4 linked regions of the Homo sapiens genome follow. The protein of the gene in region 2 purifies or fractionates together with the protein of the main gene of each other region. This does not show direct contact. Each region holds a gene or a part of one and is shown on either strand. Other genes may lie near its edges. The genes, in order: MGME1, HMGCL, PNPT1 and GLS.

The links.
Region 1: the proteins of HMGCL (region 2) and MGME1 purify together in Homo sapiens (affinity purification with mass spectrometry; 4 studies listed by BioGRID and IntAct, with this or other methods). This does not show direct contact.
Region 3: the proteins of HMGCL (region 2) and PNPT1 purify together in Homo sapiens (affinity purification with mass spectrometry; 3 studies listed by BioGRID and IntAct, with this or other methods). This does not show direct contact.
Region 4: the proteins of HMGCL (region 2) and GLS purify together in Homo sapiens (affinity purification with mass spectrometry; 3 studies listed by BioGRID and IntAct, with this or other methods). This does not show direct contact.

Annotation. Positions count from the first base shown.
Region 1 is NC_000020.11:17,965,086-17,972,043, forward strand, and holds the start of MGME1 (mitochondrial genome maintenance exonuclease 1 isoform 2 precursor), read left to right. Parts: upstream 1-3,932; 5' UTR 3,933-4,056; exon of another isoform or gene 4,057-4,529; intron 4,530-4,715; 5' UTR 4,716-4,774; coding exon 4,775-5,285; intron 5,286-6,958. Other genes in the region: SNX5 (sorting nexin-5), read right to left, coding at 3,290-3,340. UniProt on the Homo sapiens protein: Metal-dependent single-stranded DNA (ssDNA) exonuclease involved in mitochondrial genome maintenance. Has preference for 5'-3' exonuclease activity but is also capable of endonuclease activity on linear substrates.
Region 2 is NC_000001.11:23,815,427-23,822,452, forward strand, and holds part of HMGCL (hydroxymethylglutaryl-CoA lyase, mitochondrial isoform 1 precursor), read right to left. Parts: intron 5,168-7,026; coding exon 5,084-5,167; intron 2,158-5,083; coding exon 2,050-2,157; intron 1,345-2,049; coding exon 1,249-1,344; intron 1-1,248. UniProt on the Homo sapiens protein: Mitochondrial 3-hydroxy-3-methylglutaryl-CoA lyase that catalyzes a cation-dependent cleavage of (S)-3-hydroxy-3-methylglutaryl-CoA into acetyl-CoA and acetoacetate, a key step in ketogenesis. Terminal step in leucine catabolism.
Region 3 is NC_000002.12:55,634,840-55,641,865, forward strand, and holds part of PNPT1 (polyribonucleotide nucleotidyltransferase 1, mitochondrial precursor), read right to left. Parts: intron 5,867-7,026; coding exon 5,788-5,866; intron 2,761-5,787; coding exon 2,713-2,760; intron 1,554-2,712; coding exon 1,398-1,553; 3' UTR 1-1,397. UniProt on the Homo sapiens protein: RNA-binding protein implicated in numerous RNA metabolic processes. Catalyzes the phosphorolysis of single-stranded polyribonucleotides processively in the 3'-to-5' direction. Mitochondrial intermembrane factor with RNA-processing exoribonulease activity.
Region 4 is NC_000002.12:190,925,807-190,932,832, forward strand, and holds part of GLS (glutaminase kidney isoform, mitochondrial isoform 1 precursor), read left to right. Parts: intron 1-1,499; coding exon 1,500-1,676; intron 1,677-4,630; coding exon 4,631-4,762; intron 4,763-5,738; coding exon 5,739-5,831; intron 5,832-6,850; coding exon of another isoform or gene 6,851-6,880; exon of another isoform or gene 6,881-6,909; coding exon of another isoform or gene 6,910-7,026. UniProt on the Homo sapiens protein: Catalyzes the first reaction in the primary pathway for the renal catabolism of glutamine. Plays a role in maintaining acid-base homeostasis. Regulates the levels of the neurotransmitter glutamate, the main excitatory neurotransmitter in the brain.

The sequences.
Region 1 (6,958 bases), on a different chromosome or scaffold from region 2:
TTCGCAACAAGCACACAAAGACTAGCTTCTGTAACACAACCTGACCCCACCCATATCACACCATTTTAGAAGGAAGTCCGTTTAAACCAGTGATTCTCAAACAGGCAATTTTGACTTCTTATCACCATGGGAGGGGAGGAGGCCGCGTCCTAGCAGAGGCCAAAAACAGTTGCTTCACATCCTACAACCCAGAGGGCACTCCTCAACAAAAGTGATCAGGCTAAAATGTCAACAGTGCTCCCCAGGTTGAGAAACTGAATTTTAAACTCAACCTCTAGTTTAGATGACCACTAGGTCTCACCGAATGAGGAGTTTACAGCTCAGAAACAAATCTAGAAAACTTAACAGCCTTGGCCAAGCACAATGGCTCATGCCTGTAATCCCGGCATGTTGAACTGGATGGTGAAACCCCATCTCTACCAAAAAATACAAAAATTAGGTGGGCATGCTGGTGTGTGCCTGTAGCCCCAGCTACTCAGGAGGCTGAGGTGGGGGTGATCACCTGAGCTCCCCAGGTCGAGGCTGCAGTGAGTTGTGATCGTGACACTGCACTCCCGCCTGGGTGACAGAGCCAGACCCTGTCTCAAAAAAAAAAAAAAAAAAGCCTCTTGGCCATTTCTACCTATGGCCAAAATAATGTGAACAGATAATGACCTTTTAGAGTATTCACAAATGGGGATCTTAAGACACCGAGTACAAGTTACTGAACTAGAACTAAGGCGTGGGAAGCTTGATACGTCATACTTCCTCAACTTAGAAAATAGTTGCAAGGGTAGCATAAAGCTTCAGTCCACAAAGTTTGTAAGTTTGGACTTGCTATGGTATTGGTCAAAGTTCAGGATTGTTCCTATACTAACCAACTGCACTCCATTCTAGCTAATGGAGAACAAAAATACCCCTAGAGGCAGCTTCCACACCAGTTAAACACGAAACCAGAGCAGCAGTACTTAGTCTACAAACACTCCTGAGTAGGTAAGAGGACAGATATCATTCACCAAAGTCCCTGTAACCAAGCAGTAAGTTAAGGCCAAGTTGTTACTGTCAAGGAAGGAGAACCCCCTAGTTAAAAATAGCACTAGGCTGCGAAGGTCGAGTTCAAATACCAGCCTGGCCAACATGGTGAAACCCGGTCTCCACAAAAATACAAAAATTAGCCGGGCATGGCGGTGAGCGACTGTAATCCCAGCTACTTGAGAGGCTGAGGCAGGAGAATCGCTTGAACCCAGAAAGCGGAAGTTGCAGTGAGCTGAGATCGAGCCATTGCGCTCCAGCCTGGACGACAGAGCGAGACTCCGTCTCAAAAAAAAAAAAAAAATCAAAAACCAGTAAATAGAGGACCAGTTAGGAACCAAATTAACCATGCATCTCTTCCCCTGAACTATTTTCTGAGGAAGAAGGCAAACCCCAACACCCTCGGCTAAAGAATGTAACAAAATGCCAGTGTCTGGCTACCAGACACGACTGACACAGTATTCCCTTTCAGTTTTGCTGAATTGGCCAAAATGAGTATTGGGCTAGAATTCAAAATCCTGAAGAATCAAGTATGTCCCCCTACCTTAGTGAGTCTTAATTAACTCCATCCTTAGGGAGAATTCCAAACCAAAGTAAATTATCAGGAGGGCATTTAAACAATTTAAGTAACACACATTTCAGGTAACACACAAAACATTTCAGTTGACTACCGAAATTGTATTATGGCAAAAAGTTGCCCAAGACTTAGTTTCCCATTATTTCATACTTGCCCCAAACTCCCTTTCAGTTAACCATAACACCATCTAGGCCAGACCACAGCAGGTTATCAGCATCAGCAGAGATCAGAAAACAAAAATAAAGCCACGCGTCAGGGTAATTATTTATTTTTATTGTCTCTTTATTCCTGTAATGTAAAAAGGAAAACAATGTCATGTAACTCTCTTCGCTACAGATACGGACAGTTTCTGTAGCCTCTAAAACAGGCAGGAAATGGCCTTCATAACCATTCTCCAATTTTGCTGGAGGATCAGGGTGGTGGAAGTCATTTTAAAAACCAGCTGCAATATACTGTACTACCAGAGAGTGGGGTGAAGCAATTGAGTCCTTTTACCTAGCTGACTCCGAATCAAGACAGCTAAAAGAATGTACCAGAAAGAAAGAAAAAATAAAATGCTACCAAAATCCCAATCCATTATCTACCCTTTATGGAGAAAAGTACCTTTATAATGTTTTACAAAGAATCGTGGTCTCAAGTTTCCACTTTGTTTTAGTAATAAAGAACTTTCAAAAAAAAAACCACTCTAAACAACACCCTCCTGTATAGAAAGCTCTATTTTAATAATTAATGCAATGATACCCTTGTTGGAACAATCCAGCCGCTTTGAAACTCTGGTATTTACTTACTAGATGAACAAGTTTCTCTATGGAGGTGCCTTTAACTTCTCAAGAAATGTGTAAGTTAAGACGGCTCCAAATTACATTTTAAGAGAGCCTTGTATTTTTAGAGGTTCTTTTTCATCGGTCAGAAAAACTTACGTTGACGATTCTGCAAGAAAGGTTGCTCGCAAACCATGCATCGCAAAGCTACCGAGGCAAATTTAAAGAACCAATGAAAAAGAGTGGAGGCTCGTCTGAATCTTTAATTGGCTATGGGAATTTCAATTTATTGCATAAATAATCTTTTAGACCTCAAGATACACGTGACCTAGGGACAGTTTACATCAATGGGCAAGACTTAAAAATAGACACCAAGTTCAGCAAGTATTTGAGCACCTACTAAAAATTACACAACTCCCACAACAACGCATTTTGCGTTTCTAAAGTTGTAAGCAGCATGTTCGGACGCTTGATGCAATTTCCCAAGTTGTTTGGGCCCCCCCCCCAAAAAAGTCTTCTCAGTAAAAGGTGGGGGGAAGGAGGGTATTTTGGGGGCAACAAACCAAACTGGTCTGTCGCATGTTAAGTCAATTTCACGTTCACCTACTGGTCACCACGAAGCCGAGGAAAGTTTTAAAAAGAACATTCCGGGGTCTCCAGAGATCATCTCTCCAAGTCCGCTCGGCACCGGCGCCTGAGCTGGGGCTAAGGTCCCGCGTCTCTGGTTCTGTCCTAATAGAATCCGGGACATCCACAGGGATTCCCCGGGGCAGCCTTCAGTGAAGACCAGGGAGAGGGGCCGCCCGGGTCTCACGGGTGCTTCCCGCGCTGGGGATGGCGGCGAGCAGCCACGGCCTATGGACGCGCAAGGGAAAGAATGCAGCGACCCCGGAGCTCGCAGGGCCGCCCGCCCAGGAGTCTGAGGCTGGGAGGACCTCACCTTGCTGCGGTCCTCCTCCTGCTGCTGCAGCAACTCGGGAACCGCGGCCATGGCGACGCGGGACTCGAGCAGGGGCCGCCTGGCTGTGCGAGGAAAGAAGAAGCTGGGCCGCCGCCGCCGCCGCCTGGGCGCCTCTCGGGGGCGGCCACGGCCCCGCCTCCGCCGGCCTCCCTGCCCGACGGCGGCAGGAGGCCTCCGGACTCCGCCACCATCCCAGCTGCCCCGGGAGCAGGCGAGCAGGGCGCCACGTGCTCCCCCAGAGCAGCCTCCCAGTCCCCGCTGCCGTCCATCTTGGAGCCGGGCAAAGACGCCACGTGGGGCCTACCCTTGCTCCGCTCCACGAGGAGGCCGCCAACCGCAGGGCCGCGACACGGACGGGAAGCAACGGACACTCTCCCAGCAAGACGCGTCTAGAGAAAGACCGCGTTTCGGTGCGGGGGGAATTTATTACTCAGCCCGAGTCCAAGATGGCAGCGAGCGCTGACGTCACCAGATCTCGTGAGAGCAGAAGGGCGCGATTTGGAGGCTCCCGCGCTTCGGAGACGCCGGCCCTTCCGCTCGGAGAGGTACTCCCTGCCTCTAACTGGTGGCGCGTTGGCGGAGGCCGACGAAAGCCTCGGGTGGGGCGTGAGCGCCGCGGGGCATTCTGGACCTGCTTTGCCTTAGGCTGTGCCTAATTCGAAACCAAAGCGCGGGACGGATGAAAGTACGGGTCGCGAGAGGTTGTTCGCGCCTTGAGAGTTAAGCGAAGTGTGGTGGCTTCCAAGGTACCGACACTTGCCGTAGGCTGGGCTTTTATTTAAGTCGTCTTTTCTCTAATCCAGACTCCTGCCACAGGGGCCACCGCCGTCCTGGCCCCGCCAGGGGTCCGCACCCACGGCGGAGCGGGAGGCGACTTTTTGCGGTCACAGTAATGGGACCTCAGCGCCGCCACCAGCTCTGACCGGCGAGCGACGGGACCCTCCAACCCGATTTCCACGTCTGTGCAACGGGTTCATTCTAGACCCACGGTAGAGGGTGTGAGGACCAAATGAGAAGTATCCACACAGAATACTTAGCAGAGAGCCTGGTGTCTAGGAATTAGTCGTCGTCTGTCACCTAGGACTGTGTGGCCGCCATGGGACGGGCTCCATCTTTGTGTTTTTCCGTGTCTCGCACACGCCTCCCTTCCTGGGCGTCACATTCCTGCAGATTAGAAACTGGGACGTCTTGCCTCAAGCTGTCTACTAATTCGCATTTAGTATGTGTCGGTCCTTCGGGTATTGAGTCTTGATTTATTTATAAATTTTTTTTGGAGGCAGGGTCTCGCTCTGTCGACTTTCTTAAGAAAGGGCTCTGTCCAAACATGTCGAAAAAGTTCACAATTTTGATGTGCAATATCATTCTGATGCAGCTTTCGCTTTGATGGTTGTTTTCTCTCCAATAGGAATACAAACATAAAGGCCTTCGACCGTTGCAAATAGACTAAAGTGAAAACAAATCTGAATGAAGATGAAGTTATTTCAGACCATTTGCAGGCAGCTCAGGAGTTCAAAGTTTTCTGTGGAATCAGCTGCCCTTGTGGCTTTCTCTACTTCCTCTTACTCATGTGGCCGGAAGAAAAAAGTGAACCCATATGAAGAAGTGGACCAAGAAAAATACTCTAATTTAGTTCAGTCTGTCTTGTCATCCAGAGGCGTCGCCCAGACCCCGGGATCGGTGGAGGAAGATGCTTTGCTCTGTGGACCCGTGAGCAAGCATAAGCTGCCAAACCAAGGTGAGGACAGACGAGTGCCACAAAACTGGTTTCCTATCTTCAATCCAGAGAGAAGTGATAAACCAAATGCAAGTGATCCTTCAGTTCCTTTGAAAATCCCCTTGCAAAGGAATGTGATACCAAGTGTGACCCGAGTCCTTCAGCAGACCATGACAAAACAACAGGTTTTCTTGTTGGAGAGGTGGAAACAGCGGATGATTCTGGAACTGGGAGAAGATGGCTTTAAAGAATACACTTCAAGTAATTATCTCAATTCTGATTCTATATGTTTGCTATGTTTTCTATAATAGAGAGCAACGGTGTCAAAAGAATGAGGTTTGGTTTTGTTTTTTTAACTTACTAGCAAGGAACTCCCTTCAGATAGTAATTAACATTAAATAGCACTTTATGTGTATTAACTCACTTGATCCTCATGGTAGTCCTGTGGAGTATAGATACTGTTATCCACATTTTACAGATGAAACTAAAATAGATCAAATATTTGACTAAATAATACATAAAATTCACTTGTTTTATAAGCTACCAACAATATTAGAATTGCTTGTTTTCCTTGATTATTGAAAAAAGTCACCTGGTAACAGAATTCTAGTTGTTTGCTAGATAATTCTGTTTAGAATCCAGTAAATACCCACTGTCCTACTTATTAGCGTAAACTGACTCGTAAATTTAAAGACCTTGAAGCAGACCAGAACACATGACCTATATTTAGACCTTGGTAAACATAATCAGAGGTTCTTCATAAGGATCTGAGGATAAATACACTTTAACCTTCAACTTCTAATTTACTAACTTGGACAAGTGAGGAGAATAGCTTCCTTAAATTTAATATTCCATTCAAAAACAAAGACCATTGGCACTGGTGAATTAGCTAGTCCCATAAATTATATAGGGGTCTTTTGTTAAAGGAAAGTTTCACATCAATCATTCCTTTACCCAAGCTTCCCAAAGTGCAGTACATGTACTCTTAGTAGTACACAAACTCTTTCATTTTTGTTTTAAGAATAGTGTACTGACCCTTGCCATAGCCTGGGCTTCTATTTAAGTCGTCTTTTCCCTAATCCAGACTCCTAAAACTATGCGTGTAACACATTAAACATGTCACATGTTCTAAAGAAAAATACTAAGTATATATAGGTGGTATTGGATATGTACCAAATGGTCAAGGCCTTTGCTCCTTATAATATTCCTCAGCTGTGTGGGGCAAGGATTATATATGCAAGAGCTAACTGCCTTCCTAAGATAGTTAATTAGTAGCAACCACCAAACTATTGTCTGCTTTCCAAGCAAGCAACATAAAAATCTTCTAATGGCATCTTACAGTTTTGTATTTGTACCACTAAAATTTAGAATTGATAGTTTTCTCATGAGAAGTTATTTTCCTTAAACCAGGAATGTACAGCTGAAATTACTAATAAGAAATGTATTATTAAAAGGCAGAAACCTGCTGGAACACATGGGACCCCAGGGCCTGTAGCTCTTGGCACAAAGTAAGGAAGTGCACCAGAGAGGAATTTCTGTTTGGAATGTGAATGAGCCCCAATAGCCCAGGCAGAGAGAAGACTGGTTGTTTTTTTTTTCATAGAGTCAGCTTTGTTGATCTAGATTAGCACTCAGCTGTGTTTCTCAGTTAACTCAGTAGCAACCTTAAGAAATGAGCAGAATCGCTTACCCCAGCACCCCGCCCAGACTTGACCGCCGGGACCCAAGTGATTCTCCCATCTCAGCCTGCTGAGTAGCTGGGACCACAGGCGTGCACCACCATGCCTGGCTAATTTTTTTATTTTTTGTAGCGACAAGGGTCTCCCTATGTTGCCCAGGCTAGTCTCCAACTCCTGTCTTCAAGTGGTGCTCCCACCTCGGCCTCCCAGAATACTGAGACTACAGGTGTGACCCACTGTGCCCAGGCAGAATCA
Region 2 (7,026 bases):
CTCCAGACTGTGAGAGAATAAATTTCTGTTGTTTTTAAGCCACCCAATTTGTAGTGCTTTCTTTTTTTTTTTCTTTTTTCTTTTTTTGAGACAAAGTCTTGCTCTGTCACCCAGGCTGGAATGCAGTGGCATGATCTTGGCTCACTGCAACCTCCGCCTTCCGGGTTCAAGTGATTCTCCTGCCTCAGCCTCCTGAGTAGCTAGGATTACAGGTACCTGCCACCAAGCCTGGCTAATTTTTTGTATTTTTAGTAGAGACGGGGTTTCATCGTGTTAGCCAGGATGGTCTCGATCTCCTGACCTCATGATCCGCCCGCCCTGGTCTCCCAAAGTGCTAGGATTACAGGCGTGAGCCACCGCGCCCGGCCTGTAGTGCTTTCTTACAGTAGCACTAGGAAACAAACACAGTAATTTCTCTTAATTAAAAAAAAAAAAACTTTGATTTTCCCCAAGGAAACCACCACCACTGCCATCACCACCCTGGAAGTCACTCTTGAGAAAAAGCTTTTTTTTTTTTCTTGCTGTGTCACCCAGGCTGGAAGAGTGCAGCGGTATTATCATGGCTCACTGCAGCCTCGAACTCCTAGTCTCAAGCCATCCTGTGCCTCAGTCTCCCGAGTAGCTAGGACTACAGGTGCATGCCATCACAGCCAGCTAATTGATTTTTTTTTTTTTTTTTGTAGAGACAAGGTCTCCTTATGTTGCTCAGGCTGGTCTCAAGCTTCTGGCCTCAAGCTGTTCTCCGGCCTCAGCCTCCCAAAGTGCTGGGATTATAGGTGTGAGCCACTGTGCCCAGCCAAAAAAAGGTTTTTGCCTAAATACAGAACCAACGCCTCCAAAGATGTTCTTGTCTAAAATTGTAAGAAAGTTGGCAGATGCCAGCAACTACTGTTGAAACTCTTGTGGAGAGTTTGGTTACATTTCTCTAAAGAAGTGGATAATCAAAAGAGCTAACATTTATTAAGCAGTTACCTTTTATCTGGCTCTTGCTAAGCAATGTACATGCATCCTATCTTCTGAAATGCTCACAACTTCAGGTACTATCATTTAGCCCTATTTTATAGGCTTGTCAACTTGTCAAGATCACAGAGCAGTGAGTGGCAGGGCCAGGTTTGCCCCAGGGTCTGGCTGACAGACAAGCTATTCAGATGGACATCCCAGGACAGGGGACTGAGGCGCCAAGACAAGGCAGGGACCAATGCCATCAATCTCATTTCAGGAGCCCCCACCAACAAGCTATCCTCTTACCGCTGCCTCGAAGCCTTTCAAATTTGGGGTCAGGACTGGGTAGTTGATGCCAGGAAACTTCTGAATGCCCTTCAAGACTTCAGTGTGGTCACCCATCTAGGAACCAAGGGAGACATTGCCAAGTCATCACCAAGAGCAGACAGAGAGTTCAGTTAGAGAAAACCTTTTCATCACAAAACCTCTGTTCTCCAGAACTCTTAGCGAGTAATTCCTTCTGCAGAGCTGAGTCTCTCCAATACTTTTACTGTTTGTTTGACTGCTGATGGCTCAGAAGGGCCCTTGGTTTGGCTGAGATCCCAATTTCTCCATATGGCCCATACTGCCAGCTTTACATATGCAGAAACAGCAGGAATACTACTACCAGCCATTTATTGAGAATGTACTCTGGGCCAGGCACTGAGCTCAGCTCTGTGTTAAGCACTCCTTTGTAACAGGATGTTTCTTCTTCACTTAACTATCTTTGTGAAGCAGGAGTTGTCAGTCTTCCTCTTTTACAAACAAAGAAACCACAGACAGGCATAGAGGGTTTTAGACTTTAGGGCTAGAAGAGGTCATCTCTAACACTGAGGAGGGGAAGGCCTTAGCAATGTCACTGAGCAAGTCAGAGCAGAGCCAAGACTGAACCCAAGGCCCTGAATCCTGGGTCATGTTCTTTTGCTGCAACACAGTGCTATGAATCACCTGAGACCTCTCAAAGCCAGGGGCTTGGAAACCTATGTTCTCAACTTCTACTTGCTTCAAAGGCAAATGCAAAACTTTTCATCCCTAGAGAAAGGCCTTTCATTGAGGGCTAGGGCTCACCTGGGGAACCCACTTAGGAGACACAAAGCTGGTGGTTTCTATAACAGAGAGTCCTGCTTCAGAAAGCATGTCTATCAGCTTGATTTTCACTGGAGTAGATACGATATTCTATAGTGGAGAGAGAAACACCAAGGCAGCAAAGTTAGTAACAAAACAGCCTCAAAATGCAGTACCTGTTAGTTCAAGTACTATAGATAATTTTTTGCAGTGGATGCAGCTTCTCACCTGAAAAGGAGTTATTTACATAGAAACATTATTCTGCCATGCAGGCTTTCCCGTAAGTAAATGTGTGTTAATTTATAATCCCATCATAAACAAACTGAGAGCAATGTGTGATGGCCTGAAAGGGCAGAGATGACTAACCCTCTGGGGAGTATGGGATGGGGCCCCCAAAGTATCACACCCTCCTCGCTTCTGTCTCCCAATTGGCATAGGACTTCAGCCTCATGTGTTCAGCGTATAGCTTCTTTATCTTCCTCCCCACCATGTCCAGTAGCTCAACAGATTCCATGGATTCCTCTTTCCAAATCTACCATCATTATCCTGTATATAACATGGCATAGTCTCAAGCCACTAATTCATCTTACACAGGAATCCTCCTAAAATGCAGCTTCCAACCTTCCATTCTCTTGCATCAAAAGCTTTCTATGGCTCCCTAATATTTACAGGATTACGCAAAAAATTCTAAGAACTCCAGGTCCAGGCGGACACATTGGCTCACGCCTGTAATCCCAGCACTTTGGGAGGCTGAGACAGGCAGATCATTTAAGCTTAGGAGTTTGAGACCAGCCTGGGCAACATGGCGAAACCCCCTCTCTACAAAAAATACAAAAATTAGCCAGGCGTGGTGGCACGTGTCTGTGATCCAGCTACTCAGGAGGCTGAGGTGGATCACTGGAGCCTGGGAAGTCGAGGCTGCAGTGAGCAATGATTGTGCCACTGCACTGAGTGACACAGAGCAAGACCCTGTCTCAAACAAAAAGAACACACAAAAATACTCCAGGTCCTTCTCGCTAGGTCCTCCCCTTGCCTGCCTTCTCCAGTTTCTCTCCCACTGCTCTAACTTAATCTTTCCACAAAATTTTTTTTTTTTTGAGATGGAGTCTCACTGTATTGCCCAGAGTGGAGTGCAGTGGCACAATCTCAGCTCACTGCGACCTCCGCCTTCCGGGTTCAAGCGATTCTCCTGCCTCAGCCTCCAGAGTAGATGGGATTACACAAGCATGCCACCACCCCAGCTCATTTATTTTAGTAGAGATGGGGTTTCACCATGTTGGCCAGGCTGGTCTCAAACTCCTGACCTCAGGTGATCTGCCTGCCTCAGCCTCCCAAAGTGCCAGTATTACAGGCATGAGCCATCATGCCCAGCCTGTCAAATAATTTTTGAAAGCCCTCCATGTTGCAGGCATTGTGCTAGGTGCCGGGGATATAGCAGTAAGCAGAAGCAGAACAGACAGGATTCTGCCCTTCGGGAACTTACACACTATTGTTTCCAACAAGCACTCACTATTAAAGCTAGGATGGACGTGCTAAAAAAAAAAAAAAAAAAAAAAAAAAAGAGAAAAAGAAAAAAGCTTTTCTTATTGAAAAAATAATCAATATATGATTCTTTCAGAAAAACATGCCAAAAACAAAAGAAAACCACCCTTAGAATCTCCCAGTGATAACGCTATTAACACCCTGGTGTGTAACTTTCTAGATCTGTGCAGCCCAATATGTCACTAGTCACATGTGGTTATTTAAATTTAATAAAAATTGTATAAAAATAAAAATACAATTCCTTGGCCACACTAGTCACATCTCAAGTTCTCAAGGGCCACATGGGTATAGTGGCCACCACATGGAAAAGCTCAGGTCCAGAATATTTCCATCTTCACAGAAAGTGCTGGTCTAGGTCCTAGTCTAGATAAATGCTCCCATACATATATAAACTTTTTTCTTACATAAAAGTGTTAAGATTAAAAAATACATGGCCAGGCGCATTGGCTCATGCCTGTAATCCCAGCACTTTGGGAGGCTGAGGCAGGTGGATCACCTGAGGTCGGGAGTTCAAGACCAGCCCGGCCAACCTGGTGAAACCCCATCTCTACTAAAAATACAAAAATTAGCTGGGCATGGTGGCAGGGGCCTGTAATCCTAGCTATTCGGGAGGCTGAGGCAGGAGAATCACTTGAACCCGGGAGGAGGAGGTTGAGGTGAGCCGAGATTGCGCCATTGCACTCCAGCCTGGGTGACAGAGTGAGATGCCATCTCCCAAAAACACACACACACACACGCGCGCGTGCGTACGCGCACATGCACTATTTGTTTTTGTTTGGAGACAGAATCGTGCTCTGCCTCAGCCTCCTGAAGTGCTGGGATTACAGGCATGAGCCACCACCATGCCCAGTCACATGTACTATTTTATAAACTGCTTGAGTCACTTTATATATACCTATGTTATTAATGGCTTCATAATATTTCATTTTATAAAAAGTCCATAGTGTATCTGACCCAACTTTCCTCATACTAAATATTTAAGTTGTTTCCAACTGTTCTGTGCTTACCAAACAGGTTTGTAAGGAACACCCCCAAGGCTAAATCTCTACATTTGGCCTTCGTGACTTGCTTTGGATAAATCCCCTTACATGGAATTGCTGGGTCTACCCCACCCCACTGGGCTGTGGACCTGGGGACACCAAACCTGTTGCACCACCATTCAGTTTATATATATACATATATTTTTTAATAAGATAGAGTCTTGCTATATTGCCCAGACTGGTCTCAAACTCCTGGGCTCAAGCCATCCTCCCACCTCAGCCTCCCAAGTAATTAGGGATGACAGGCATGAGCCACCCATCCAGCTTGCCCCACCATTTTAGATCATTTAACTGTCACAGGTGTCTGTCCCTGTTTGGCCTCCTCTACTCTCCCCTAACTTGTGCAGAGGAATCACATCTTGCATAGCTCTGTCAACTGCCATTGCACCTATCACACGTAATACTCAAAGCAGATGCTTGAAAAAACTGTTTTTTTGGCTCATTTCCAACTTTACCTTTTCATTTTGTAGTCCATCTCGGGGACCAACTTCCACAATTTTCACCCGCTTTGGTAAAGTGCCCATAGATGAGGTGCTGACCTTTGGTTTAAAAGAGGAAACAAAAAGTATGAGGAAGAGATTGCCACAATTCCCAGGGAGACCAATATGAAAGAATGGATCTATCTTCACTAATAATGAGACAAGAAGAAATATTTCTCACCATTTAATTCACATTTGGTCTATTTTAGAATTAAGAACAAAAAGAATATTTCACTTAGTAACAGGAACAAGCAAGAGATTCATCCTTCCAGTACCGGTTCTCCCCTGAAGTCCAGACTCCTTTTCCACTGCCTACCTGACAGCTCTATTCGCATCTCTTCATATAGCAGTCCCGAAACAGAACTCTAATTTCTCCTAAAGCCCATCTGACTCCATCCTTTCCATCTCTGTCAAAGGCATCGCATGTACCCTACTGCATAAGCCAGAACTTCATTGAGCCATTTCACCTATTCACCATGGCCTATAGGACTCTGTATGCTGCTGTATGTATGTTAGAAGTAGTTTAAAAAGGCCAGGTATTGCGGGGGGCAGTGGCTCATGCCTGTAATCCCAGTACTTTGGGAGGCCGAAGCGGGCGATCACTTGAGGTCGGGAGTTTGAGACCAGCCTGACCAACATGGTGAAACCCCATCTCTACTAAAAATACACAAAAAATAGCCGGGTGTGGTGGTGCACGCCTGTAACTCCAGCTACTCAAGAGGCTGAGGCAGGAGAATTGCTTGAACCAGGGAGGTGGAAGTTGCAATGAGCCAAGATCGTGCCACTGTACTCCACCTTGGGCGACAGAGGAAGACTCCATTTCCAAAAAAAATAAAAAAAGGCCAGGCACGGTGGCTCATGCCTGTAATCCCAGCACTTTGGGAGGCCAAGGCAGGCAGATCACTTGAGGCCAGAGGTTCGAGATCAGCCTGGCCAACATGATGAAGAAACCCCGTCTCTACTAAAAATAGAAAAATTAGCCAGGTGTGGTGGAATGGACATGTAGTCCCAGCTACTCAAGAGGCTGAGGTGGGAGAATCGCTTGAGCCCAGAAGGTTGAGCCTGCAGTGAGCTATGACTGTGCCACTACACTCCAGCCTGGGCAACAGAGCGAGACCCTGTCTCAAAAAAAAAAATTAAATGACTCTATATGTCACTTGATGCTTTCCAATTAAGAAAAGAAAAGACTGTATGAGTTGCCTCCTCTGACCTCCTGGAATCATCACTCGCCCCTACTGTCCACTCCCAACCTCCACCCAACAGGTTGCTAAGCTCCCTGCCTTCTCTTCCCTCTGCCCCAGGGTTCCTCATCTGGCTTTTTTTAAAAAAACTGGCTGTTCTTACATCTCTCTCTCATCTTTCAGTTGCAGAGAGGCTTCCTCTGACCACCCTTTGCAAAGCTGCCATTCCTCCCACCCCCATTATTTTCGCTATTGCAGAGCTATAATTATTTCCTTCAAAGCACGATAAAGAATGCCTACTCAATGTCTCTTCCAGTAGAACATAAGCTCTTTGAGGGACCTTGTCTGTCTCAACTCCACTTCATCCCTAGTGTTTGGCACCGTGTTTGGTACAAAGTAGCCACTCTTTAAAGTTATTAAAATAACACATAAACCATGAAGGACACAGCTGTCCCAGAAGAGAGCAATTACTGAGTGTGGGGAGGAGTAGTCAGTCCTGGACTTTTCGGGGTATGGGCGAGATGCAGGAGGGCTCTCTTCTGTTACAGTCATAGGCTGGGTGATGACAAGCATGGGTCTAAGGGGAGGTGACACCCCCAGTAGCTGAAGACAGTTTTTACAAAATGCCCTGAGTCTCCTCTATATAAAGTCAGCTCAAAATCTTAGTCTTCCCTATCAAGTAACACAATACTTTTTTTTTCCTCTTTCCTCTACCTGTCTTGATACTGTAACTTTTCA
Region 3 (7,026 bases), on a different chromosome or scaffold from region 2:
GCCACCATGCCTGGCCAGATATACCTACATTTTTATAAGATTTAAAATTTTTTTTAGAGATAAGAGTCCTGCTATGTTGCCCAGGCTGGAGTACAGTAGCTATTCACAGGTATGATTGTTGCACACTACAGTGTCGAACTTCTGGGCTCTAGTGACCTTCCCACTTCAGCCTTCCAAGTAGCTGGGACTACAGGCACGTACCACTGAGTCCAGTGTATTTTTATAAGATTTTAAAAAAGATTACACATTCTAAATTATGACGTCCACATACCATTTACTTTTCTGTGGAATTATAAGGTGATATTTTAAATGATGGGAATGAACAACTTGACATGTGTATCAGTAACCTCTAAACATCTATTTCAAACATCTATTAACCGAAAGTCATGATCCTTCAGCTCTTATACTAAGAACTTCCATACATTAGAGCAATACACATATTCAAATTGACCTAGTTCAATTTGATAAGTAAACAATTTTTTTTTTTTTTTTGAGACGGAGTTTTGCTCTTGTTGCCTGAGCTGGAGTGCAATGGCGCAATCTCGGCTCACTACAACCTCCACCTCCTGGGTTGAAGTGATTCTTCTGCCTCAGCCTCCTGAGTAGCTAGGATTACAGGCATGCGCCACCACGCCCGGCTAATTTTTGCACTTTTAGTAGAGACGGGGTTTCACCGTGTTAGCCAGGATGGTCTCGATCTCCTGATCTCATGATCCGCCTGCCTTAGCCAATAATCTTTCTGTTTAGGTAAATTTGAAAAATATACATCATTACTACCACATTCATCCTAGTTAGAATCTCATTTATATTTATTCCACTCTGTTTATGATTTGGTAACTAATTTGAAAGGCATTATATTATCAAAAGTGTATCAGATTAGCTCCCTCAACTCACTATATCTGTTAACAGTTCTGAAGAAATAGGCACTGGCTTTGAATATGGCCTGTTCCAGTTTGTGAACCGTTGTAGGCAAGTAAAGTTGTTGGGCACAGAGGTGACCTGTAGGATGACTGAAGGTAAACTGTCACTACTGTATACAAAGAAGAAAAATAAGATGTAGGAAGAGATCTGTTATAATAACATATGACATATTCTATCTAAGTTTTTCATATATTTCAGAATTGTAAAAACAAAACTATGTAATTTTTTCTAAGATGTATAAATGACTTACTTTTAATAATAAATATTTCTTGATTTATAATGTAAATACAATTAAACAAATATGGGTTACTCGAATTAAAAAAATGGCACATGTAAATGAGCATTTTAGTACAAATAATTAAAATGTATTTATATTATATAGAAATCTACACAATGGAAGATACTACTAAAATGTTGCTCTACAGCACATCACCCTAGACAAAATAGAATTCTAGAATTCTCTTTAAAAAAAAAAATCACTGAGAATTAGATGATGACTGTGAAATAGGTTCTCCCATTACAATACTACTTCTGTCATTCAAAGTTCTGACCACGGTTGTAGCTGGCGACTGAAGCACTTTTCGAGAAAGCCTCATTCTTCCATCGGCTGGGTCACGTCCAAAGTATTTCACCTGTGTTAAAGAAACAGATCTTCCTTTAAAGTTACAGCACATTGAGTGACATCTAAACTAATAGACATTTAAATTTACATGGTCCAAATAAGGCAATGATTGTTTTTACTTGTTCACTGAAAGCATTGTTCAGTGCTAAGTGGACGTATACACTTAACACATATAAGTAGTCATTATAAAAGAGAAAAGAGACGGGGCAGTTAGTTGTTCAACTATAATCTGCCGCTGAACTCATCTGTGCCTTTTTATTCTCACCAGGCCAAGTCCTTATACTGGGGGAACAGTCACAGGCATAGTGAATGATCCTAGACAAGGGCTTTGAGAGCCTAATTGTGTTATATACTATAGAGGATTATGCTTAGGTCACTTGGATTTTCACTACTGCTCAAAGGACCAACACATTAGTGTTTATTTGGCTTCACCTTGGAAAATGAAAGTCAGGGGCAAATGCAAAGGTTTAAAGTTCCTTCTGATGTGAAAACAACAACAACAACAACAACAACAAATAAACCAAAAAATCAACCTTATACAGAGATACTATATCTTAGCACTCATCTTCCCCTGGAGGCTACTTGGACAATAAGACTACACATTGGGAATAAACCAGAAGCCTTAGTTACTCAGGTCATGCGTATTAGCGTAAGTGAAAGACAATGTGGTGGAGCCCGAAAAAACAGACTGGCAATGACTTCTTTCATCCACTCATAAAGGACTACAAAGAAAGGGCCAATTTTGTTATATGAATTCTAGGCCTGAATAACATGGCTCTTACCAAGCTCAAAAACTTTAAGTAGTGGAGAAACAAAGTCTCACCTCCTCAAAGATGACATTCAAAGACTTTAACAAGTTACCTTATCACAGTTCTTACGTCAGTGCCCAAATCATGGAGTCTGCATAGCTAACACTAACATGCTCATGTATTTTTTAAACGAACTAAGGGTGACTACCATTTTGGCCAAGCTGCAAGCTCCTTGAGGGAAAGAATTGTGTCTTAAATCCTTAATGAGTCTGTTCAAGCAATTCTAAGATTAAAAATGAAGTACTGCATACAAATAAAAAACTTCATAGATGGTGACTCTTCTTTCAACTTTTTGAAAAAAACAATGGAAGCTTCAAGAACAATTTACAACTTCAAGGCTAAAAGGTGGAATACAAATACCTGAATTTCTTGGCCAACTTCTAATCCTAGGGCAGTAGGATGTTTAATCTGGAAAAAAAAATGTTAATCTATTAGTTGTTGTGCATAATTATGTAGTGTCCATGGAAGTACACATTTTTTCCTCAAGCTTTATTAGTTTTTCTGATTAAAAAAATCAGTTAGCGGCTGGGCGCAGTGGCTCAAGCCTGTAATTCCAGCACTTTGGGAGGCAGAAGCGGGCAGATCAAGAGGTCAGGAGATTGAGACCATCTCTGGAGGTCAGGAGAGTGAAACCCCATCTCTGCTAAAAATGCAAAAAATTAGCCGGGCATGGTGGCGGGCGCCTGTAGTCCCAGCTACTCAGGAGGCTGAGGCAGGAGAATGGCGTGAACCCAGGAGGTGGAGCTTGCAGTGAGCCGAGACCACGCCATTGCACTCCAGCCTGGGTGACAGAGAGAGAATCCGTCTCAAAAAAAAAAAAAAAAAATCAGCTGGGCATGGTGGCTCACGGCTGTAATCCCAGAACTTTGGGAGGCTGGGGCAGGCAGATCACTTGAGCTCCGGAGTTCGAAACCAGTCTGACCAACATGGTGAAACCCTATCTCTACTAAAAATACAAAAACTAGCTGGGTGTCGTGGCACACGCCTGTAGTCCCAGCTACTTGGGAGGCTGAGGCAGGAGAATTGCCTGAATCTGGGAGGCAGAGGTTGCAGTAAGCTGAGATTATGCCACTGCATTCCAGCCTGGGCGACAGAGTCAGACTCTGTCTCAGAAAAAAAAAAAAAAATCAGTTAATTATAAAGATTTAAAATACAGATGTATTAAGAACATAAAAATTATCCAAAACAGGCTGGGTACAGTGGCTCACACCTGTAGTCCCAGAACTTTGGGAGGCCGAGGTGGAAGGACTGCTTAAACCAGACTGGGCAACGTGAAGAAACCCCATCTCTACAAAAAATCCAAAAAAATTAGCCGGGTGTAGCGGTTTGTGCCTGGGGACCCAGCTTCTCCAGAGGCTAAGGTGGGAGAATCACTTGAGCCTGGGAGGCTGAGGCTGCAGTGAGCTGTGATCATGCCACTATACTCCAGCCTGGGTGACAGAGCAAGACCCTGTCTCAAAACCCTCTCAAGTTGTAGATAACTACTGCTAACATTCCAATGAGTATCCCTTCAGATGTCTACTTAGTGTATGTGTACGGCATTTATAAAAATGGACCCTCTGTGCTTACTGTATATCTTAAGGACATCTTTTTTTTTTTTTGAGATGGAGTCTCGCTCTGTCATCCGGGCTGGAGTACAGTAGCATGATATCCGCTCACTGCAACCTCTTCCTCCCAGGTTCAAGAGATTCTCCTGCCTCAGCCTCCAGAGTAGCTGGGATTACAGGTGCACGCCATCATGCCCAGCTAATTTTTTCTATGTTTAGTAGACACGGGGGTTTGCCATGTTGGCCATGCTGGTCTCAAACTCCTGACCTAAAGTGATCCGTCCACCTTGGCCTCCCAAAGTGCTGGGCTTACAGGCGTGAGCCACTGCACCTGGCCCAAGGACATCTTTTCATATCAATAAATTAAGAATTACCGTTAAGTTTCAAACTATATAGTTTATTTAAACAATCACCTAAAGACAATAAATTGCTTTAAATTCCAGTGTTGCAAATGTTAATGACTGATGAATATAGGAGAAAGATATATGAGGGTTTAGTGTATCATTCTTTCAACTTCTTTGTACATTAAAAACTTTTCAAAATAATAAGGTGAAAAAAAATAAGTTGCAGTGTAGCACAAATCATGAATTCATCTACTCTAATTATCCTCTCCAAATAAAATCCTACAATGTCTAGGTCCATAGACATTTACCAAACACCCTCTAAAAAGTTTGTCCCAATTCACACCCCCATCAACAGTGTATGAAAATGTCCATCTTTTCTCTTATACACACTGAGAATTTTAAACTATCTGAAAGTTAAAACTGATATCTTAATTTCATTTGCATTTCAAAAATTGCTGTTGATATTAAATATCTTGGTTGGCTTTTTATAAAAATAATTTGTTCATGTTCTTTACTTATTTTTCTATTGATATTCATCATTCTTACGGATTTATAAAAGCCCTTTGTAAATTAAGCTTCTGCATATAAGCATTTTTACTTTAGGTTGCTGATTATCTCTTAACCTTATTGAAATTTTTGCCATATAATTAAAAAATTATGGGGTCAAATTTTGTAAGTTTATTTACTTTTTTGGCTTTGATATCATGTTGAGGAGTTCTCCACTACTAATCTTATTAAAACATCCAATTTTCTTCTAGTAAACCCTCCTGCCCCAACAAGATTATCTTTTCCTACCACCTTTTTTAAAAAGCACATTTAGCTCTTTGATCCAGACAGGATTTAGGTATAAAAATGAGTAGAGATCCTGTTTTAAGATAACCAGCTGTACCAATATAATTTATTAAATAATCTTTATTCACTGACTATAATACAACTTCTAGCGTATATTATAATCCCATGTATATTATTTCTAGTTTTTGTTTTCTTGTTGCATGGATTATCTATTTCTGGGCCGGTAATATACTATTTTATTGTCTATGGCTTTATAATATATTTTAATATATGGTAAAACAGACACTCTTTTTTTTTTGAGACAAAGTCTCACTCTGTCGCCAGACTGGAGTGCAGTGGCACAATCTTGGCTCACCGCATCCTCCGCCTCCCGGGTTCAAGCGATTCTCCTTCCTCAGCCTCCCGAGTAGCTAAGACTACATGCGCACGCCACCACGCCCAGCTAATTTTTGTATTTTTAGTACACACTGGGTTTCACCATGTTGGTCAGGATGGTCTCCATTTCTTGACCTTGTGATTCACCCGCCTCGGACTTCCAGAGTGCTGGGATTACAGGCATGAGCCACCCTGCCCAGCCAATTTTTCTTTATGCTAAACAATGTAAAACTTTTTGCCAGCAGCATCTCTGCCACTTGTTTTCTCTGTTTAGGCTAGTAGTAGGCAAAGTGTATAATTCTTACCAACCTAGGTAATTTCAATACAGTGTTTCAAGGCAGTTATAAAAATAATAACAATAACATCTGTCTTTTTACCTTTCGTTGATCAAGTTGTGTGTTATGAAGCAGTACCGCAGTCATATTTGGATATAATTTTACCATTACACCAGTATCTCTACAAAAAAATAAATAGTAAGCCTGGTTAAAATAATAAGTATCTGTATATCCATTGACAAATAAAACATTGTTTTCATATGAGGAAAAAGTAAAAAACGAAAAGAAACAATTCTAGCACGTTTTTAGAACTATAAAAAGTATACTTTTCAACTGAAAATATACCCTATAAATAAATATGTGTGAATCAAAGAATGAAGAAAAGATAAAGAAAAAACATGCAATAGAAAAGCTTTTAGAGCCAGGTGCGGTGGCTCACACCTGTAATCCCAGCACTTTGGGAGGCCAAGGTGAGCAGATCACGAGGTCAAGAGATCAACTCCACCCTGGCCAACATGGTGAAACCCCGTCTCTACTAAAAATATAAAAATTAGCTGGGCCTGGTGGCGCGCACCTGTAATCCCAGCTACTCAGGAGGGTGAGGCAGGAGAATTGTTTGAACCCGAAAGGCGGAGGTGGCAGTGAGCCGAGATCGTGCCACTACACTCCAACCTGGCAACAGAGTGAGACTCCGTCTCAACAAAAAAAACTTTTAGAATATATGTTCTTCTGTATTTCTCTTAACAATTTCCAAAAACATTTTTTTTTTTTTTTTTTTTTGCCACCCAGGCTGGAGTGCAGTGGTGCCATCTGGGCTCACTGCAACCTCCGCCTCCCAGGTTCAAGTCATTCTCATGCCTCAGTCTCCCAAGCAGCTGGGATTACAGGCATGTGCCACCATGACCAGCTAATTTTTGTATTTTTAGTAGAGATGGGGTTTCACGAAGTTGGCCAGGCTGGTCTCGATTTTCCAAAAATTTTCGAAATGACATTAAATATTTTAAAAATAGTATAGAATCTCATATGATTAACCTGTAAGGTAAGGATTTAAGGAAGGTGGTCAGGTAAAATGGAATACTTATTTCATTAAAAAACTAATCTTCCCTTTTTTCTCTAATCTATGAAAATAAGCCATCCCATTTCTTATTTTTCACCTGCAATATTAAACAAATTATCTCCTTGCCTTTTATTTTATTTCAAATAGCTTTGAACATTTTTGCTACATTTGATAATTTCCTTTTTCTTAAAAGAGGGATTTTCTTATCCTAAAAAAACAAGCTCTTCTAGCTGGTCAAAAAAAATGCTTTGAGACTGAAATTGGCTTTTTTTTTTTTTGAGATG
Region 4 (7,026 bases), on a different chromosome or scaffold from region 2:
TATTAGCCATGTGACCTAATTTTAGTTACTGATCCCTAGTTTCCTTATGTGTAGTATATGCGTCACCTGCCTTGCCATATTATGTGGAAGATAACATGAGATGATATGTGAAATTCCTTTGAAACTAGCCTTTTTTTTCCCCCTGGTCTGTATGAATTTTTTCCGTAAGTTTCTTTTCCTTTGGAATACATATTTAAATTTGGCTGTTATAGAATCTACTGTAATGTGACATTTCTATACTTCATTGCAAAAATCAAGAAACAGCCATAGAAGTGGTACTGACTTTTTTGGAGAAGGGCTGCATCAAATTGAACGGCCATTGAGATTAGCAGGAGAGTACCCGAGTTGGCATTTGGCAAATTAAGAATGTGCTGCCTTATGACAAACAAAATTCCAATTAATGTTAAGTATAAATTAGGAAATGATCATTGGAATTCAGAAAGCCTTGCATGATTAAGTCGACCTTATCACAAATCTTTGCTATCTGGGGCAGTATTGCAAGTCGATTCTGTCGTTTTTGAGAAATAGGGAAGAGATTTTTTATATAAATAGGCAATGTAGTCAAAGTTAAACACACAATGTTCTAATTCACTGTACTTAGTTTTCCTCCTTGCTATTTCCAAACCCCTTTGTGCCTCTTGTAGATCTTGGAGTATGGCTGAGGAAAATTTATAAGTTGAACTCATTCTTCTCCTATCCACTTTATTTTTTGACCCCGTCTCATCCCAATTTTGCTTACTATTAGCTAAAAATAAAATGTGGAAAAATTTATTTTCATTTTATGGGTAAATTTGGGTTTGGTACGGTGAACTATTTTCATTATTTTGATTGTATTTAAATGCAAAAATTTTATCCTAGAGGGTATTCTTAGCACCCATAGTAAATATCAAATAAATATTAATAAATGGTCTAAAGGATAACATTTTGGTTTAGGCTTACAGAGCATCTGAGACAGATCTGCTTTATATTTTTCTTCCCCTTTTTCCTTTGCCTGTTACCATATAGATGGGGATGCCGAACTTTGTTATGGGTGAAATGTCAGGCACTGTAGCATTTTTTTCTAAAATGGTGATTTCTCATGTAGACACTATCATAATCTTCATGTATGGTGCTTTATCTTAAAAATATTTCATGGCTCTTTTTTTTTCTGTTGAGTTAAAAGTAATTATGCTTGTGTATTCCACAGAAAGTATTAATATTTAAGCAAATTTGAATATCACATGGGATAATAACAAATCTTAGTGTTTAGAGGCTGGCACTTCCTAGTCTAGTTCTGCCATTAAAAGACTGAGTATCTTTGGCCAAATCAGGGTAAATCTTAAAAGTGGGTAGGACTTCGGTCAACTAAAATCTTCAGAATGTCCTCAAGTTTATATTAAAGTAATCTCTTTGGAAGAAATATTTCAGATCTGTATGAAATACCAAATAAAATAGATTATCTTAAAAGTGAACAGTAATATTAAAAGTAGTATGAGAATTCTGCTTTTTCTTTGTGTTAGCTGTGCTCCATTGAAGTGACTTGTGAATCAGCCAGTGTGATGGCTGCGACACTGGCTAATGGTGGTTTCTGCCCAATTACTGGTGAAAGAGTACTGAGCCCTGAAGCAGTTCGAAATACATTGAGTTTGATGCATTCCTGTGGCATGTATGACTTCTCAGGGCAGTTTGCTTTCCATGTAAGTAATTGTTTAATCTTATTTTCTCTGGCAAGAAACTAGTCTGAACTGGTTCTTTTAAAAATGCAGTTTGAACTTTGCTTCTAAAGCTGTATATTAATTTTTGAGAGAGAGGCTTGTTTTCAAGGTTAATTTGTTACAAGATTAGTAAGGAATAGAGATAAGGTCTACCAGATGTTCTTAAGAACTTGGAAGTTTGATTTATAGAACCTCATCCCTTCTGCTTTTAAGGCAATCCAGTGTACAAGGTTAGTACAGTCTTTCTTTACTTTTTGTTTTTAATGTTTAGCATTATGATTATGTATCTTAAGAATTCTCTAAGTTCAGAAAGATTGCAAAGATGTGACGTTTCACATCTTTGGTTACGGCCATAGCTGTTTTAAGGACTAAAAGTGTATTAAAGTTAAAACTTAACAAAAATGTACTGCTTTAAGCTCTGTTGTGCATTTGCCACTTGTAAAGTATATAGACTTTTTTTATTTCATTCTGCTCATGTCAAGTCATAATGCCCTTCTAAAAGCTTTTTTTATTTTGGAAATTTTCAAACATGTAAAACGAGAGAGAGAGAGAGATACATTTAATGTTATCCATCACTCAGCTTCATTAATTATGAATACATTACTAATCTTGTTTCATCTGTATGTGCATCTGTTTCCCCTATCCTTGTCATATTTCAGTATGTAATTCTAAATAAGGATCCTTAACAAAACATAACAATAATACAGTTTTTACATATAAAAATTAAATATTACATATCAAAACTTTAATATCATTATTAATATCAATATTAAATTGAATATCAAAATATTTAGTTAGTGTTTAGATTTCCTGGATTATCTTGTAAATTATTATTTCTTTTTTTTTTTTTTTGAGACGGAGTTTCACTTTGTTGCCCAGACTGGAGTGCAGTGGCACGATCTTGGCTCACTGCAACCTCTGCCTCCTGAGTTCCAGCGATTCTCCTGCCTCAGCCTCCCGAGTAGCTGGGATTACAGGCGCCTGCCACTGCACCTGGCTAATTTTTGTATTTTTAGTAGAGATGGGGTTTTGCCATGTTGGCCAGGCTGTTCTCGAACTCCTGACCTCAAATAATGCACCTGCCTCAGCCTCCCAAATTGCTGGGATTACAGGTGTGAGCCATTGCACCTGGCCTATTATATTATTTTATAGTTTGTTTGACTTAGGATACAGATGAGGTGCATACATTATGATTGGGTTTTGTCTCCTTTTTTTTTTTTTTTAAATCTATTGGTCTTCTTTTGACCTGTCTCTCTTTTTTTCTTGTTATTTTTGGTTGGAAAAACTGGGTAATTTAGTCTATACAGTTTTCCACTGTCTCTACATTGCTGATTACCTCTGTTCCATTGTCCCTTGTATTTCCTATAAATTTGTAGATCCAATTCAGGTGTGTTTTTTTTTTTTTTTTTTTTTTTTGGTCTGCTTGTTTTGTTTAGTTTTGTGTAAAAGTACTTTATTGGTATACTTCTTTTATTTTTGTTTGTTTATTTATTTATTTATTTTGAGACAGAGTCTCACTGTGTCGCCCAGGCTGGAGTGCAGTGGCGTGATCTCGGCTCACTGCAACCTCCATCGCCTGGGTTCTAGCAATTCTCCTATCCAGAGGTACTGACTGACTGAATGTTAGTAAGCAATTAATGAACACTGCTCTAATGACATTAATTTTTTTTTTTATCATTTGTCAAGTTTTGCTAATGTAACTTAAATTTTTTGAGGAGGAGTAATTTAAATTACCATTTTAGAAAATCTTTTAAGAATATATAACTTTTTATTGTTTTCTAGTTGTAAAATATTTTTAAAAAATAATTTGTTATATTTAAAAACAATACGTTTATCTTAGAACAATTAGAAAATATAGTCAGGAAGAATAAAAGCATCCATAGCCTCACAATTTAGATGTAACTGCTATAATTCCTTAGAATGTATCTTTAAACAATTTTTCTATATTCATATCTATCCCAAACTGTTTCATAATTTTTTTTTTTTTGAGATGGAGTCTTGCTTCGTCACCCAGGCTGGAGTGCAGTGGTGCGATCTTGGCTCACTGCAACCTCTGCCTCCCAGGTTCAAGCGATTCTCCTGCCGCAGCCTCCCGAGTAGCTGGGATTACAGGTGCCTGCCACCACACGCGGCTAAGTTTTGTATTTTTTGTGGAGACGGAGTTTTGCCATGTTGCCCAGGGTGGTCTTGAACTCCTGACCTCAGGTGATCTGCCCACCTCGGCCTCCCAGAGTGCTGGGATTACAGGCATGAGCCACCGCACCCGGCCTTATAACTTTATTTATAAACATGTTGATAAAAATTTATCTACAATATTTTTAATGTTGAAATTCTATGGTATGTATATATATATATTTTTTTTTTCGAGAGGGAGTCTCACTCTGTTGCCCAGGCTGGAGTGCAGTGGCATGATCTCAGCTCATTGCAATCTCTGCCTCCCGGGTTCACCTTTCTCCTGCCTCAGCCTCCCGAGTAGTTGGGACTACAGGCGTGCACTTTGGGAGGCTGAGGCGGGCGGATCACAAGGTCAGGAGATAATTTTTAATTTTTAAACCAATTTCCCAATTGTGTTTTTTTTTTTTTTGAAACTGGATCTTGCTCTGTCATCCAGGCTGGAGTGCAGTGGTGCGATCATGGCTCACTGTAGCCTTGACCTCCTGAGGTCATGTAATCCTCCCACATCATCCTCCAGAGTAGCTGTGACTACTGGTGTGCACTTCCATGTCTCACTGTTTTTTGTAGAGACGAGATCTCCCTGTGTTACCCAGCCTAGCCTCCAACTCCTGGGCTCAAGTGATCTGCTTGCCTTGGCCTCCCAAAGTGCTGAGATTACAGGAGTGAGCCATGGTGCCCAGCCCCAGTTTCCCTATTGTTGAACATAACATTTCTTATTTTAAAATGTTTACCTGAATACTCTTTTACTGAATTATTTTTAGGTTGGTCTTCCTGCAAAATCTGGAGTTGCTGGGGGCATTCTTTTAGTTGTCCCCAATGTTATGGGTATGATGTGCTGGTCTCCTCCTCTGGATAAGATGGGCAACAGTGTTAAGGGAATTCACTTTTGTCACGTAAGCATATTTTCTTAATGTAAATAATGGTGTTACAAGTTGAGCCATCCAATGATTCTTTTTTTTAACCCATTTTCCATAGTTCATTAACTCTTGGCCCTCCGCCTATAGTGTGCCAGTTACTAGGGAGCCGTGGAAATACTCCCAGAGGAGCTTCAAGTTGTCTCTGTCAGACAGCTCCCATTTAATTATTCCCACAGATTATATTTGTTAGATGCTAATATTTTAATTTTCATGGTTATAATTAGTATGAATTTTCAAAAGCTCAACAAAAGGTATTAAACTTGGAGAAGTAATTTAAAAGCCAGTATATCTTAAGAATTATTTTGGTTTATTATATCTTTAATCTGCATGGTTAAATATCTTTATCCATTGACTACCTTTAAACATTTTTTTGAGGAAATAAGCACTGAAAATTAAAAAAAGATTAAACCATTTTTAAACTGTTACTGCTCTTGATAGTTCTGTATTTTGTTGTTACCCAGTTCCTGCTAATGTTTGAGCTTCTAGTTTTAGTTACATTGATTACTTGCTTGAGTTCATATTAAGTACCATACTCAATTAAAATTGTTTTATTTTCCAGTCTTTTATATTTTACAAAAACTAGAGTATGACCTTGGAGTGCATATAAAATATAGTAGATTGTAACCAGAGTACTTATTTATATTTTAATGTGGCTTTACACTTATTTGATAGAAGAATTCTTTCATGGGGCCGGTTATAAACCCTATTTTGTAGAAGATGAAAGATGATTTGATTGGCTGAGCCCTAGGATCATGTTAGTAAGCAGTGTTCTTAAAACTTATATCCATATCTTACTCTGATTTTAGTTCTCTTCTTGATGCATTATACTACTTTATTAGCATGTAGTGATGATTTCTAGGCTGGACGATATAAGCAGAGTTTGTTAAAATATGGATATATATAACCAATGAATAGCCAATTTCTTATACCTGCTCTGTATAACTGTTTACAGGATCTTGTTTCTCTGTGTAATTTCCATAACTATGATAATTTGAGACACTTTGCAAAAAAACTTGATCCTCGAAGAGAAGGTGGTGATCAAAGGGTAAGCAAAATTCTTATTTAGATAAGTATATAAAATTTTTAAGAAGAGAAAAAGTGAGATTTGCCTGTATAAATAAAATCTTAGTTTGTTAGTGGCCTCGGGTCTTTGCTAATCATAAATGAGTGTAAACAAATTGTTGACATATAAATCCGGGATCACCAGTATTAAATACTTAAAGATTGTTTAATAGATAGTTAATAGATACAGATATTTAAATATTGCTGTTTTGTTATTTAAATTGAAACTAGTTAGCCTAGTGTCAGGGATTTCCCCTTCCATTTTCTGCTATTTTAAGCAAGATTTTTAGAATTGATTCTGTTAAAAAAAGAACAAAACAAAACATTGGAATGTGCTGCATGCTATAAAGAAAGCATCGTTTTAATATTTGTTCGTCCTAAATTGAAGTTTAACTTCTTGCATACTGTGTAGATGGATATGTAAATGGAAAAGGATTATCATATTAGTGAGAGACCGTATGAAGCCTCAAAAGTTTTATAAGTCACTGTAGATGAAATATTTTTTTCCACCGTGTTTAATGCAATATTCCTAATAATCTTACGGTCCTATTTGTTTGTTACGAGTTTATTTGGCTTCATACTATTGTACACATATATTCCTTTTTTTAGAAGTAGTATTAAGAGTCAGGACTTAACTTTTTTGGTCTATATAGTTTTTCACTGTACCAAGGGGCTTGTGCTGAGAATTTTGATTCAGTTTCTTTGCGTACCATATTGAAAATGTTTGTAGTAAAATTACCTAATTAGACCTCAAGATAATATGAAGAACTTCTAAGTAGAAAATATTTTTAATACATACTAAGTACATTTTCTGTAGTGCTAAACTAAATTTTTGTTAGTTTTTATCAAATTAATTTCTGTTACTATGTAAGAATTATGCAAAACCAACAGAATAGAAACTTCCATGGGAGTCGACCTGAGTAACATGAAGCAAAATGTCAGAGGTGGTGGTTTAAAATGTTAACATTTTAATAATGCTCATTGAAAAATACCATTTTATAGCTTGGACCTTTCTTCACTCAAGTGCACTAATAAATTATGTATGTTGCTTGAACAACTAGCATTCCTTTGGACCATTGGACTATGAAAGTCTCCAACAAGAACTTGCTTTAAAAGAGACAGTATGGAAAAAAGTGTCACCTGAGTCAAATGAGGACATCTCTACAACTGTAGTATAT